4 linked regions of the Homo sapiens genome follow. The protein of the gene in region 4 interacts with the protein of the main gene of each other region in a pairwise test. Each region holds a gene or a part of one and is shown on either strand. Other genes may lie near its edges.

Evidence for each region. The genes of interacting proteins can lie anywhere in the genome.
Region 1: the proteins of UBE2W (region 4) and MARCHF3 interact in a two-hybrid assay, tested with the Homo sapiens proteins (one large-scale study listed by BioGRID and IntAct).
Region 2: the proteins of UBE2W (region 4) and RNF220 interact in a two-hybrid assay, tested with the Homo sapiens proteins (one large-scale study listed by IntAct).
Region 3: the proteins of UBE2W (region 4) and CHFR interact in a two-hybrid assay, tested with the Homo sapiens proteins (one large-scale study listed by BioGRID and IntAct).

The regions. Positions count from the first base shown.
Region 1 is NC_000005.10:127,024,059-127,027,558, forward strand, and holds part of MARCHF3 (E3 ubiquitin-protein ligase MARCHF3), read right to left. Parts: intron 1-3,500. UniProt on the Homo sapiens protein: E3 ubiquitin-protein ligase which may be involved in endosomal trafficking. E3 ubiquitin ligases accept ubiquitin from an E2 ubiquitin-conjugating enzyme in the form of a thioester and then directly transfer the ubiquitin to targeted substrates.
Region 2 is NC_000001.11:44,632,255-44,635,754, forward strand, and holds part of RNF220 (E3 ubiquitin-protein ligase RNF220), read left to right. Parts: intron 1-88; coding exon 89-131; exon of another isoform or gene 132-136; intron 137-2,983; exon of another isoform or gene 2,984-3,290; coding exon 3,291-3,334; coding exon of another isoform or gene 3,335-3,412; exon of another isoform or gene 3,413-3,500. UniProt on the Homo sapiens protein: E3 ubiquitin-protein ligase that promotes the ubiquitination and proteasomal degradation of SIN3B. Independently of its E3 ligase activity, acts as a CTNNB1 stabilizer through USP7-mediated deubiquitination of CTNNB1 promoting Wnt signaling.
Region 3 is NC_000012.12:132,842,606-132,846,105, forward strand, and holds part of CHFR (E3 ubiquitin-protein ligase CHFR), read right to left. Parts: intron 1,530-3,500; coding exon 1,422-1,529; intron 479-1,421; coding exon 406-478; intron 1-405. UniProt on the Homo sapiens protein: E3 ubiquitin-protein ligase that functions in the antephase checkpoint by actively delaying passage into mitosis in response to microtubule poisons.
Region 4 is NC_000008.11:73,819,863-73,823,362, forward strand, and holds part of UBE2W (ubiquitin-conjugating enzyme E2 W), read right to left. Parts: intron 1-3,500. UniProt on the Homo sapiens protein: Accepts ubiquitin from the E1 complex and catalyzes its covalent attachment to other proteins.

The sequences.
Region 1 (3,500 bases), on a different chromosome or scaffold from region 4:
AATCAGGGGAGATGACCTAGCCTAGGGTGGGAGTTGAAGACATCCTTAGAGAAGACACATAGGAAGGTAGTGAGAGGAGGAGGCAAGGTAGAAATGAAACAGAGGGACTTTGGAGATGGATGGAGTAGGAATGGATGATATAATAATTCTATGAAGTGCTGAGATCACTGCTAAAGTTGACAGTTGAACACTAGGATTCACTTACTGCTACCATTCAAACTTTTGGTGAACTATCTTTATGCATATCCTTTTAAGGCCTTGTAAATGTTCACTTGTAATTCTTTGTAGCCTCTAGCACACCCAGCAACTCTTTCTTGAGTAACCTTGCTTGAGAAGCTACAAGATGAAAAGTGTGGTCCCTTGCCTCAAGGGGCTCCAAGAGGGAGAATACAGCAGATAAGGGTTCTGCCTGAAGAAGACATCAGGTCAAACGGGGACAGGGAAAAGCTTCCCAAAGGCATTAATATTTGAACTGAATCCTGAATTGGCTAAGTAGAGAAGTACTACCCATGATAGGTACTCAATTAGTATTTGTTAATTAATTTCAGCTCACTTTCATTCGTAAAGATTACCTGAAATATCACTGAAGGACTGGGAGCTAGTTCTTATCACCACTGTTTTCATTATTGTCAATTAAAAAGATAAGTCTATCTATTTTAGTGTTCAAGGGTATAATCTGAAAAAGTACCACATCTTACCTTTGGCAGGGGTGGGGGAGTGTACTCATAATTTTCCCAATTATGAGTTCTCTTGTTGTTCTATGATTTCACAGCAAAAAGTTTTAAAAGCCTTCAAAACCAGCACATTTTGCTCACTTGAAATATGTTTATATTTTAGCATAAAATATACTCGGCAGCTCCTAACATAGTTGGATGGCTACGCATTGCAAAAACTTGATTTCTTTTTAATCAAATTTTTAGAACCGCACTAGGTTTCTTGCCAGTACTGCAACAGTGAGCAATAAATACATCATTAGATCAATGGTGGTCCAATGACGGATTACTCAAAAGATAGTTCCAGCCAAAAGGAATAAGCCAAGAAGTAACATTGTGCAGAGATTAATAAAATATTGTTTAAAACACAGATACTGAGTTAATATAACAGGGAAGAAAACATTGCAAAATAGAACAAAACAGCCATAGGTTTATAATATAGTGATATTGATCACAGATTTTCCTAAGTACTCCAGGGCAGCCACACTATTATATATGCCTCTGATTAGACCCAGAGATGAGAAGGAAAAAGTTATTAAAAAAAAAAAAAAAAAGAAAGAAACTAACCAGGGGAAGGCCTGCTGCTATAATAAATTATTTAAAGCAAGCAGGGTGAGCAGGTTGTGAGGACAATATAAAACAGAATCAATGCCCCCAAGAAACCCCAAACCGTCTGCACCTCTATAAATTTCTTACCACCCTGTCTGGCATTTTACTGGAGGTATTTCTTTTCCACCATCCTACCCACCCCACCCCTGACCCTTCACTTTTTGCCCAGTTCTTTTCTCAGAGCTTAACATTTGTTTTCCTTCTGTAACCCAGGATGCTGTCTTCAGTTATATTTTTCAGCTTGTATCAGGAGAGTGTCTGTGAGGCCACAGATGAGTGCATCTGTCACTTCATTCATCTGAATCTTAAATTTCCCCACTGACACTGTAAGCTGGGAATATCTAATATGACACACATATCAACATGACTTCAGTATTATCCTTCATCTTTTTCTTTCTTCTTACTACTGCTATCATTAAATCCACAAGCTTAAGCTGTTGTGAAACTTCTGTAGCTCAATGACTGTCGTATATTAGAGGATATTACTAGACCCAAAAAGCTAAAGTGAAGGTTGGGAACTTAAGGGGGCATTTCGGAGGAGAAATGGTAAAATGGCTAAAATGGAAGAACTGGGAGATGTTAAGAGGGCAGACTGATTTAAAAAGTGAATTTTTTACAAGGAGATTTTGCTATGGGGATAAGGGTAAGAAAAGAAGCATAAAAAACTTGAAAAGAACTTGTCAAAGGAAAGTTAGATGCCAGAAGAATGCCATAGCTAAAAAAAAAAAAAAGTTATAATAGAATTGTTGCTTAGAAGCTTGCAATGACCTATGGCCCAGTTTCAAGAAAAGCAGCATTCTACTATAGTTTTTGTAACTGGGCAGAAATCAGTCCCATTGTATGATCAGGGGCTGTGGATAGTATATTTTAGGCTTTTCCATTTTTCTAAGTCTATCCAATCACACAGAAGCTAGGCAAATAAAAGCAACCCTATTTTGCCAGAGTGAAAACATTAGCAGCTTAACATGACAACAGACAAAACAGCACAGGGCTAAAACACATGTCTAAAGGATTCTATACGTAGGCTTTGCCGCTTTTGTAATCTGGGACTTTTAGCAAATTATTTGCCTCTCTGGGTCAAGACTGTCTGGTTAAGGTCAGGGTCATTGAACTAATTATTATATATGGTAGTTAACTTTATAAAGAAAACTACTACAAGGTCACATTCAATATAAGAAACAATTTGAAGAAAAAGGTTAAAAAATTGTAGATGATATGAACGACTAAGCATAACCCTATCATATCACCACAATCCTAAATCAAAACAATTTAAGTTGCAAGGCCAACTTCTCAGTTATTGGTGTCATCTTTGAATGTGAAAGACAAGATCTAAATATTATCCTTTTGTAGCTGCAGTTTGCTCATCTGTAACAAAGTGGAAAAAAATCATTGTCCTCAAAGGATTGTTAAGGTAAGTGACCTATCAACATGCCTGCCAAGTGCTTCTTTAAACAGAAATTACTCTGTAAAAGTTCCAGTGACGATCCAGTGGTCTGGAACAATCCAAGTTTAATACCCTGGCCTATACACATCCTTTTGTTATCAGGATACTTCTCACCTCTGAAAGAAGTCATTTGTTTTTTTAGCTACTTGGATGGTAGAAAGAGGGAAGGGTAACTTCTGATAGATCCTTTCTCTTTCAAACCTTATTTAGTAGTCTTAAATGGAGAATTATGCCAGTCTGAAATGGGAGAACAGAATCCAAATGTCAGTATCAAATGATAAATAAAAAACTAATTGGCAATAACTAATAAAAATTCACAGTGCTCTCAGTGAAAGGGGAGGTAGCAAACAATTCTCAACCCACATCTCTGTGACAATGAGAAAATCTATTTACCCAATTAATTGGGCAGCTCAAAATACTCCTAAGGTGACTTTCAGAAAGTAAGAATCTCTGGGCCTCTGGGTGGGTGGCCTGGGACACTCTTCCTGGCCACAAGCAAAATAGTCACAGCTTCCCAAGGCGATCATTGACCTCATATAGTCTGTAGTAGCCCAGCTGAGGTGCTGGGCTTTGTTCTAGAACAGCTTTTAAAGAGAAAAAGGGTGCCTCATGAAGATAAGGATTCTACCTTGCAGGAGGAAATGCTCAACCATGTGAATTAGGACTGGCAAAGTCACCCCAGAGCATCCCAGGACCCCACCGAACTCAGAGTGGGGGGTGAAGGAACTAAGACT
Region 2 (3,500 bases), on a different chromosome or scaffold from region 4:
GGTCCGGTGCTGGGGCGGGGGCCAGGACTGCAGGCCGCGCCTGACGCTCTCTTTTCTTTTCTTGCATCTGCCCGCGATCTTCTCCCAGACCTTTCTGCGAGTACGAGCCAACCGGCAGACCCGACTGAATGGTGAGTCCTGCCCGGCCCCTCCCTCCGCCCCACCCCCGGCCTCCTCCCTCCCTCCCTCACTGCCTGCCGCTCCTGGCTTGCCTGGGTCTCTTCGACTCTGGGGCCCGTTGGCTTCTTCGCAGTCACGGCGCCTGAGTATGTGCAAACCAAAGCTGCCGCTCTCAGTTTCCCCGTCTGTCTAATGGAGGTATGGCGCCCAGCTCTTGCCCAAACCTCTCTAAAGGCCCTGAAGAACCCTGGGGGGGCAATAAGTGCCGGAGAATGAGGAACGAGCTACACAATTCTACTCGGGAGCTCAGCTTTGAATTTGCAAACTGCTGGGACCTCACTATACAAACCTGCAGGGCGCTGAGAATGTTTTTCTTCCAGTTTTTAATCAGTGCCCAGTAGTGTGAATACAGCCCCTCTGCTGAGACTTGACAATACAGTGAGATCTGGAGTTCCCACGGCAACAGGAACTAACTCATCCCAGGGCTCTTTGAGTTATCAGTCGGCCCACATTTCACAAAGGTGATCAGCGTGGGCTCGACAGCTCTTAGAGGCCTTCTCTGAAAGCAGGCCGTGTATGCACTACCTAGCAGCCCCCCTTTTGGATTCAAACCTCTGGAGCATTCCTGTTTGCTGAATACAATTGAATGATCCTAGCTTTTTGTGCTTACTGGGGTGTGGTATCTGGGGGGTGGCTGTAAGGGGTTTAGGGTCTCTGGGTCAGCTGGTAAGTGAGAGAGGCCATGGAGTTCAAGATCCCCAGCTCTTATCACTTGGTTTCTGCTGCCAGGCTGAGCCCTAGTCTGGAAAAGGGAGAAATTCATGATGGGCTGGCGCCATGTTAAGCACCATTCTCACAACGCCTCTGAGAAGAGTATTACACACCTTTTGTGAATAAGAAAACAGGCTCTGAGAGGTGAAAGTGGTTTGTTTAAAAGTACACAGCTGGGATGTAACTGAGCCATGATTCAATTGAAGTTTGTTTCCCACCAAAGCCCGTGTTTCTCCAACCATGCCATGCTACCTCCTTGGCAAATGCTTTGATTCTTCCTACTCGTACGTAGCCTCTGGATAGAGAACAGAACTTTCCCTACCACACTTTGGTAAGCTTAATTCAGGATTTAGAAGATGAATGGGAAGGTGAAAACCAAACCTGCCTTCCTTCTCTGAGAATTTGCAGATGAAGCCCAGTCCATTGGGGTGCTTTCCAGGGACAACAAGGGATCATCTGCTGGCCTGTGTGTCCTGAGCAAGGAGCGCATCCAGTATTGTGCCTTTCTTGACCATTCCATGAGATTCGTTTCCTTAGTCATTGAACATTGTGGTATCATCAGCACCTTCTTCCCCAGGGAGGCATTCCCTTGGTGTAGGCATGGTAGGGAGGAAGCTTTGTGTTGGCACACTGCTCCTTACTACACTTCTAGAACTCTCAGGGTCCTTTGCTCAATGCCTTTCTGATGTTTCACGTCCATTCTCCATCCCAGCCCTGGCTCTAGAGTGTCAAGGCTACCTAAGTCTGAGATTCCAAGAGTTAGGGCAGCCAAAATGAAGAGTTCTCGATCTGTGTCCACAAAGTCAAGTGAGGCACTAGGACACAGTCATGTCACCTATAGTGAAGACACAGGAAAGTGAAGAGATGGACTGGGCTACAGACCAAGTTTCCTCAAACTCCATGCCCAGTTCTGGCAGGATGGTAGCTTTCCTTTTGGTTTGGGTCTTTCTGGGGTTGCTCTGTTTTGGAGTTGGAGTAGCTCCCTGCCTCAGGCTCACAACAGGCAGGAGCTGGAGCCCTAGCACACTCACTGGGACCAGTCTTTGTTGATGCTGCTCAGTTAGGAGGTCCCCTTGAAACAGGAGGGCATTCTAGGTTGTGAAGTCAGTTCTGGTTTCCTATCTTGCCTTTGCCACTTTTTAGCTACTTGGACACGTACCTTGATCTCTCTAAGCTTTGGGTTTCTTCATCTGTTAAAATGGGATAATGCAATCTAGCTTCAGCAAGTGGTAGTAAATGAGCTACCTTGGGTAAGGTACTTGGCTGTGAGCCTGACACACGGTAGAAGCTTAAATTGTAACATAGCAGCTCTCACCTGTGTTCCCCTCCTAGATTGCATTCATGAGCTTCCCGTTAGGGTCACTGTCCATGAGAAAGTTCTTCCTGGCCCTGCTTTGGGGAACCTTTCCCTCCTTTGCTGGCTCTCCCCACTCCCCATCAGTCTGGTCCCAGAGTAGCCATCTCTGATCCTGCTGTGGCATTCTGGAAGGGACTAGAGGGAAGAGAGTTTCTTGTTTTGACCCCTTCCTGCTTCAGTGACAGGAGGGCTACAGAGAGGGATTAGTGAGCTAATTAGAAATGATTGCATTGCTCAGCATTAATTAGCAGTGTTGTGGGCTTGCAGTGTGCACTTTGGAACTGAGCCCCCTGTGGGACAACATGGCAGGCAGCCCTCTGCCTCCAGGGCCTGCCAGCCCCTCTGTACTGATTAGAAATGATGGAACAGGTTCGGGTGGGCACAATAAGGGCTGCCTTCTCAGGGTTCCCTGAGCCTTCTGACCTGGCTGCCAAAGGTCTGACCCAGACCGTCTTACCTTTATGACTGGGCCTCAGTCTCCTCTTCTGTGAAATGGGATTAGTGGACCTCAGAGAAATTCTTCCTGATAAGATTCTAGGTGGGATGCTAGGAGCTGTACCTCAGGGCTCTTGGCCCAGGAACCAAAGAGGATTTAGCTGATGAGTGAACAGCAGGCCAAGTCAGGCCATCGGAGGGGTTAGGTTCTAGTCAAGAGATGCTCTTTAGAGTTGTATTTCCTGACACCAAAAGAGTTCATGGTCTTGGCCTTCTGGAGAGATACCTAGCAACATGGAGTGTCTTTGCTCACTGGATTTTTATTAAACACTGCAAATAGAAAGGTATGGGTAGACCTTGCACCAGCTGCAGCCAAAGAGTGGACTTACTCACTGGCTTAGTTAGCACCAGTCTCCTCCCCAGGTGCTCTTGGCAAAGCCCAGTCCCCAAAGGAGCAGGAGGTATTTCAAGATGAGGGCCAGATCAGGCACTGAATAAAAAGGCCAATGGCTGGCAAGAGGTCAGGATGTGTCAGCTCCACTGGGACCCTGGGGGCTGCAGTGACCGTCTGCTTGTTCTGTGCTTTGTTTTCGGTTTCCCCGTGCAGCTCGGATTGGGAAAATGAAACGGAGGAAGCAAGATGAAGGGCAGGTATGTCCCCTGTGCAACCGCCCCCTGGCAGGATCGGAGCAGGAGATGAGTAGGCATGTGGAGCATTGCCTTTCTAAGGTAGAGGGGCCATCACCACCCACCTTCCTTCCCCGCTCCCTTCCCCCGACACTAGCTGCTGACTGCCCCTGAATCTGTGGGCTCTTGG
Region 3 (3,500 bases), on a different chromosome or scaffold from region 4:
GGGAAAGACACCACGTGAGGGTGACGATGTGACAGCAATCACAAATGCCTGCTCACGGGACGGACGAGAACCCAGCTGTGCAGCGCTTTGCGAGGGGGGCCTGAGGCCCTCAGTGACTGCAGCCTTCGACTTAGAAACGGCTAAGCCTGAAATGATGGGGTGTGCCCCGGATGCCTCAGACAACAGATAAAGCTACTCCAGCCAGGAAGACACAGAAGTGGAAGACGGAGATAAAACTGCATGAAACGAAGGGATAAAGGAAGAGCAGGATTTCTAAATGAAGATACCGGTTCCTAAAGGATGCAACCTGAGAGAAGCATAATGACCATATCAGCCTATTTATAAGCAGGCAGTTAACTCATTCATCACTCTGTAGCTGACGCCTGTGCCCCCAGCTGCACTCACATGGCGTGGTGAGCTTTCACCTGAGTGCGGCAGTTACGGCCCCAGTAGCAGTCAGGACGGGATGTTACGGCCACTGGAAAAAGAGAAGGGGTACGCATCTATGAGATGTATTGCACGCACCCACTCAGCTACCTGAATCCCAGCAGAGACCCAACGACAGACGCTGCGGTGGAAACGCACGGCCTCTGGTCCCTCCATAACTAGTTTCCTCGGACCGTTCTGAGATTTCAGGAAAGGAAACACATGTTTAACTAAAAACCCAACTGAGGGTCAGGTACAGTGGTTCATGCCTGTAATCCCAGCACTTTGGGAGGCAGAGGCAGGAGAATCGCTTGAACCTGGGAGAGGGAAGTTGCAGTGAGCCAAGATCACACCACTGCACTTCAGCCTGGGCGACAGAGTCAGACTCTGTCTCAAAAATAAATAAATAAATAAAAATTAAAAAATAAAAACCCAATTGAGGAAATAAAATTACCCCAGTTGACTATTGGATGTCTTTACAAATCTGTTTTAGAAACCCACGTTACACTCATGAGTAACTGCAAATAGACCCAGGGCCTAAAACAACCACAGCCCTGTATGGCCTGACGTCCTGCCGGCTCCTGACTGAGGCCAAATTCTGCTTAGAACATTGAGCAAAGTGCAAACAGGGTGTCTGTAAAGAAAAGAGTGCTGGCCGAGCGTGGTGGCTCATGCCTGCAATCCTAGCACTTTGGGAGGCCGAGGTCAAGAGTTCGAGACCAGCCTGGCCAACATGGTGAAACCCCGTCTCTACTAAAACACAAAAAATTAGCCGGGCGTGGTGGCGGGTGCCTGTAATCCCAGCTACTCAGGAGGCTAAGGCAGAAGAATTGCTCGAACTCAGGAGGCAGAGGTTGCAGTGAGCCGAGATTGCACCACTGCACTCCAGCCTGGGCAAAAACAGCGAAACTGTCTCAAAAAAAAAAAAGAGAGGCAGAAGCCAAGAAGCCAACCCAGACAGAACTAGAGCCATGAGGAAGTCGGGGGCTCCTTACCTGGCAACTCGGAAGCAGGAATGTTCTGCCGATACTGATAGGTCAGCTCACGGAAGCTGCGCAGGCCACAGCAGTAACACAGAACGGTGTCTCCCGTGACTCTGTAATCTGGAAGAAACACAGCCAGTTACCCAGCAACACCATCTTCCCAACAGCAGCGCACGGACTTCACAGCAGTGGGAGACTAACGCACTGACCATAAATGGGGTGAAGACAACGGGCGACACATTAGGAAAATAAGAACAAAGCCAATCTAGATACGAATTTATTTTTATTGAGACGGAGTCTCGCTCTGTCGCCCTGGCTGGAGTGCAGTGGTGCGATCTCGGCTCACTGCAAGCTCCGCCTCCCGGGTTCACGCCATTCTCCTGCCTCAGCCTCCTGAGTAGCTGGGACTACAGGTGCCCGCCACCACACCGGGCTAATTTTTTGTATTTTTAGTAGAGACTGGGTTTCACCGTGTTAGCCAGGATGGTCTCGATCTCCTGACCTCGTGATCCACCCGCCTCGGCCTCCCAAAGTGCTGGGATTACAGGCGTGAGCCACTGCGCCCGGCCACCAATTTATTTTCTTACAGCAAAACAATCCCACGTGGATATAACATTTATTTTATTTATTTTTTGAGACCAAGTCTTGCTCTGTCGCCCAGGCTAGAGTGCAGTGGCGGGGTCTCAGCTCACTGCAACCTCCACCTCCTGCGTTCAACTGATTCTCCTGTCTCAGCCTCCCGAGTAGCTGGGACTACAGGTGTGTGCCACCGTGCCCGGCTAATGTTTATACTTTTTTAGTAGAGATGGGGTTTCACCATGTTGGCCAGGCTGGTCTCAAACTCTTGTCCTCAGATGATCCGCCCGCCTCGGCTTCCCAAAATGCTGGGATTACAGGCGTGAGCCTCCACGCCCGGCCCCACATGGATATAAAATTTAAATATTAAAACTCCCAAAAAACAAGAAGAAAATGAGAAAATTAGCTATTTCTAAGTATGTCTTGAAAACCAAATTGCACAGAGGAAAGGATTTGTACATTTGGCTATCTACAATTTAAACATCAAAATTAAAATAAATACAACAAAAGTGAACTACTACTATAGTGGAAACATTTGCAACACAAATGAAAATGTGCTATACCCTTAATTAACAAAGATATCGGCCAGGCACGGTGGCTCGCGCCTGTAATCCCAGCACTTTGGGAGGCCGAGGCAGGCGGATCACAAGGTCAGGAGTTCGAGACCAGCCTAACCAAGATGGTGAAACCTCACCTCTACTAAAAATACAAAAAAAAAATTAGCTGGGCATGTTGGCGGGTGCCTGTAATCCCAGCTACTCAGGAGGCTGAGGCAGGACAATTGTTGAACCTGGGAGGCGGAGCTTGCAGGGAGCTGAGATTGTGCCATTGCACTCCAGCCTGGGTGACACAGCAAGATTCCATCTCAAAAAAAAAAATAAATAAATAAATAAAAATAAAAAAACTAAGATTAGCCAGGCATGGTAGCACACGCTTGTGGTCCCAGCTACTTGGGAGGCTGAGGTGAGATGATCTCTTGAGCCCAGGAGGTCGAGGCTGCAGTGAGCTGTGATCATGCCCCTGCACTCCAGCCTGGGCGACAGAGCAAGAACCTGTCTCATATATATATTTCTACAGCCTCCCTTAGTGATAAATTATCATACTCCACAAAGCATCGTGTGCCCCCCTGGAGAGGAGTGACCCTCACCAAGTGACTGACACATCAAGCAAGAGATTCACCAAGTCCCCGAGGGTCCCAGGACAACTGACCCCAGGACCTCTGGATAGACAAGTGGTAGAGACCCTCCAAGCTGGCCCCACCTGTTGGAGGCCACACAAATGTTTCTTATGATTAGGCATAATTGAAGCCTGTCAGTAACAGTATGAACCTGTGATCAATTTAGCAGCTGCCCAGTTGTTACCTCCTCCTTGCTCTTGTTACCCAATAAATATGAAGGGCTGTAGAAGCTCAGGGGCAGCCTTTACTCACTAGAAGCAGGGAGCTCTCCTCTTCTTCCCCATGTTGCCTTTCCTTAAAAGTTTCTTTTGTCTTTTTGTTTTCATTTCTACGTTTGT
Region 4 (3,500 bases):
ACAAAAGCAGTAATTTCACAATGAGATTCATCTATTCTAGAAATATTTTCCAAATTCTACTCTTGTAACTAGTGATAAACTCAGTACTGTTCATTGCATAGAAAGATGAAAGACTTTTCTTTCTTTTTTTTATTAGAGATGGGGTTGCCCTACGTTGCCCAGGCTGGTCCCAAAACTCCTGGGCTGCCTTGGCCTCTCAAAGTGCTTGGATTACAGGCATGAGTACCATGCCCAGCCAGAAAGATGAAAGACTAATTTAGGTAACAAGTGCTAATGCTACAGAGTTTCATCAAATAAAATTTTGGGGGAATTTTACTGCCCTAGAGGACTGGTTCTAGCCACTTTCCCAGGGCAGTGGATCTCTGCAAAGTTTCAGTTATTGGAAAAATCTTGAAGTCTATAAGCACATCAAGCATTGATGTTTGACCCATTATAATTATGTTAAAACTATATAGATTATGTATAAATACATTTTAAAAAATTTTAACGTATTACTGGCCTCAGAGTAGTTCTGCCATTTTCCCAATCAATGGATATTAGAATATACAACCTCTATGCCATGTGAGGGACTACAGAATTAACTGATATTAAAAAGGAATCCTCACTGGGCGTGCCTATGATCCCAGTACTTTGACAGGCCGAGGCGAGCAGATCACTTTAGGACAGGAGTTCAAGACCAGCTGGACCAACATGGTGAAACCTTGTTTCTACCAAAAATACAAAAAAAAATAAGCCAGGCATGGTGGTGCATACCTGTAGTTGCAGCTACTCAGAGAGGCTGAGGTGGGAGAATGGTTTAAGCCCAGGAGGCAGAGGTTGCAGTGAGCAGAGATCACACCACTGCACTCCAGCCTGGGCAACAGAGCGAGACTCTGTCTCAAAAAAATAAAAAACAAACAAACAAACAAACAAACAAACAAAAAAACAAAATAAAAAAACCAAGCCAGGCATGGCGGCAGATGGCTGTAGTCCCTGCTACTCTGGAGGCTGAGGTGGAAGGATCACTTGAGCCCAGGAGTTGGAGGCTGCAGTGAGCTATGATTACACCACAGCATAGGTAGATGACAAAGGGAGACTCTGTCTCCGCACCCCCACCCCACCAAAAAGTAAATTAAAAAAGGAATCCTTATATTTCAAAAAGAGTGAGAATAACTGACCTAGAGCTTTCAAAGGTACCATTCATTCCACATATAATCTTTCACTTTCAGAGAGAAAATTACTACATAGATAAATAGGCATTTTTTCCACACCGGTACTCGCATCTAATTGGCAGTATGGCAAAGGAGGAAAGGAAAGACTTGGGTTTGGGTCTTGACTGTCCTATAAACTAGGTATTAAAACGTGAACAAGGCACTTCACTTCTACAAGTTTCAATTTCTTCACATATAAAATGAGGATGAATCTACCTCCCCTAACCACTTCATTAAAAGATGTTAGAAAACAAAATCAGAATGGAAGTTAAATTATGAAGTACTATATAGAAATATTACCATACAGAATGCATGCAGGTGCAGAAAAAGTTAAGTTTGGATGTGACTATACAGGGACTTGAATGCCAGGCTAAAAACTTGATTCCATAGGAAATAAACATTAAGAGGTTTTACTGTCAGGGGGTGAGGAATTCTGGGGATGGTGGAGTGAGACAGAGTGTGTGTGTGGTGGGGGGGTGGAGTGGGGTGTGGGAGTGTGTGTGTGGGGGGGGGGGGATGTGTGTGCATGTCCATGTGTGTGGTATGTAACCAGTGAGATAACTGTGCCTTCAAACAAATCTATTGGCACCGTGAAAGGATGTAGGAATTCAAAGAACTAAAGGCTACTGTAATGGTTCAAATAAAAGATAAAAACCTGGACTAGGCCAGGCATGGTGGCTCACACATGTAATCCCAGCACTTTGGGAGGCCAAGGAGGTGGGCTGATCGCTTGAGCCCAGGAGCTCGAGACTAGTCTGGGCAACATGGCAAGACCCCATCTCTACAAAAAATATAAAAATTAGCTGGGTGTGCCATCAGATGGCCAAATCATTATTTACTGGACCAGACCTTTTCAAAACTATCAAGCAGATAGTCAAGGCCTGTAAAGTGTGCCAAAGAAATAATCCCCTGCACTGCAGGCCATACATTTCAATCCCTCTATCTTTAACCTCCTTGTTAAGTTTGTCTCTTCCAGAATTGAAGCTGTAAAACTACAAATCGTTCTTCAAATGGAGCCCCAGACAGTCCATGACTAAAATCTACCACAGACCCCTGGACCGGCCTGCTAGCCCATGCTCCAATGTTAATGACATTGAAGGCACCCCTCCTGAGGAAATCTCAACTGCACAACCCCTACTACGTCCCAATTCAGCGGGAAGCAGTTAGAGTGGTTGTCGGCCAACCTCCCCAACAGCACTTGGGTTTTCCTGTTGAGAGGGGGCACTGAGAGACAGGACTAGCTGGATTTCCTAGGCCGACAAAGAATCCCTAAGCCTAGCTGGGAAGGTGACCGCTTCCACCTTTAAACACAGGGCTTGCAACTTAGCTCACACCTGACCAATCAGATAGTAAAGAGAGCTCACTAAAATGCTAATTAGGCAAAAACAGGAGGTAAAGAAATAGCCAATCATCTGTTGCCTGAGAGCACAGAGGGAGGGACAACGATCAGGAAATAAACCCAGACATTCGAGCTGGCAACAGCAACCCCCTTTGGGTCCCCTCCCTTTGTATGGGAGCTCTGTTTTCACTCTATTAAATCTTGCAACTGCAAAAAAAAAAAAAAAAAAAAAAAAAAAAAAAATTAGCTGGGTGTGGTGGCATGCACCTGTAGTCCCAGCTGCTTCGGAGGCTGATATGGTAGGATCACTTGAGCCCAGGTGGCAGCAGTTGCAGTGAGCCAAGATTGCACCACTGCACTCCAACCTGGGTGACAAAGCGAGACGCTGTCTCAAAAAAAACAAAACAAAAACAAACAAACAAAAAACCAGACTACAGCACTGACATTAAGAAAAGAATGGGCTACCTTTCAAATGTAGGAGGGAGGAGTGTGGAAAAGAGAAAAACTGAGCACAAAAATAGACAGGTGGACAGTAACCCAGGATAAAGAAAAACAAAATGTTCTTTGTTATTGGAAAGATCAAGTTTAGTTGTGTTAAATTTGAGATGTCTGGAGGTACTCAAGTATTTCAACAAGGGTGTGAAATTAAGCCTTAAAAAAAGAAGTGTTCCCAGAGCTGTAGATCTGGGAGTTAGCTGCTTAAGGTGACTGAAGGTGAAAGAAGAGTGAGAAGAGTAACACAGTGCTGAATAAAGAACCTGGATAACACCAATGTTAGAAGAACAGACAAATAAAATCAGGGAAGGAGGATAAAATGAATTTGAAATAGGACAATAGGGAGAATTTATTACAAATGCTGTAACTTACAGAAATATTAAAGAAGAAATTCAACATAATGTTTAAGTTTGATATTTGATTTAGAATTAAATATTAAGGAAAGAGTTTAGAGAACACATTTTTGACTTGGTTTC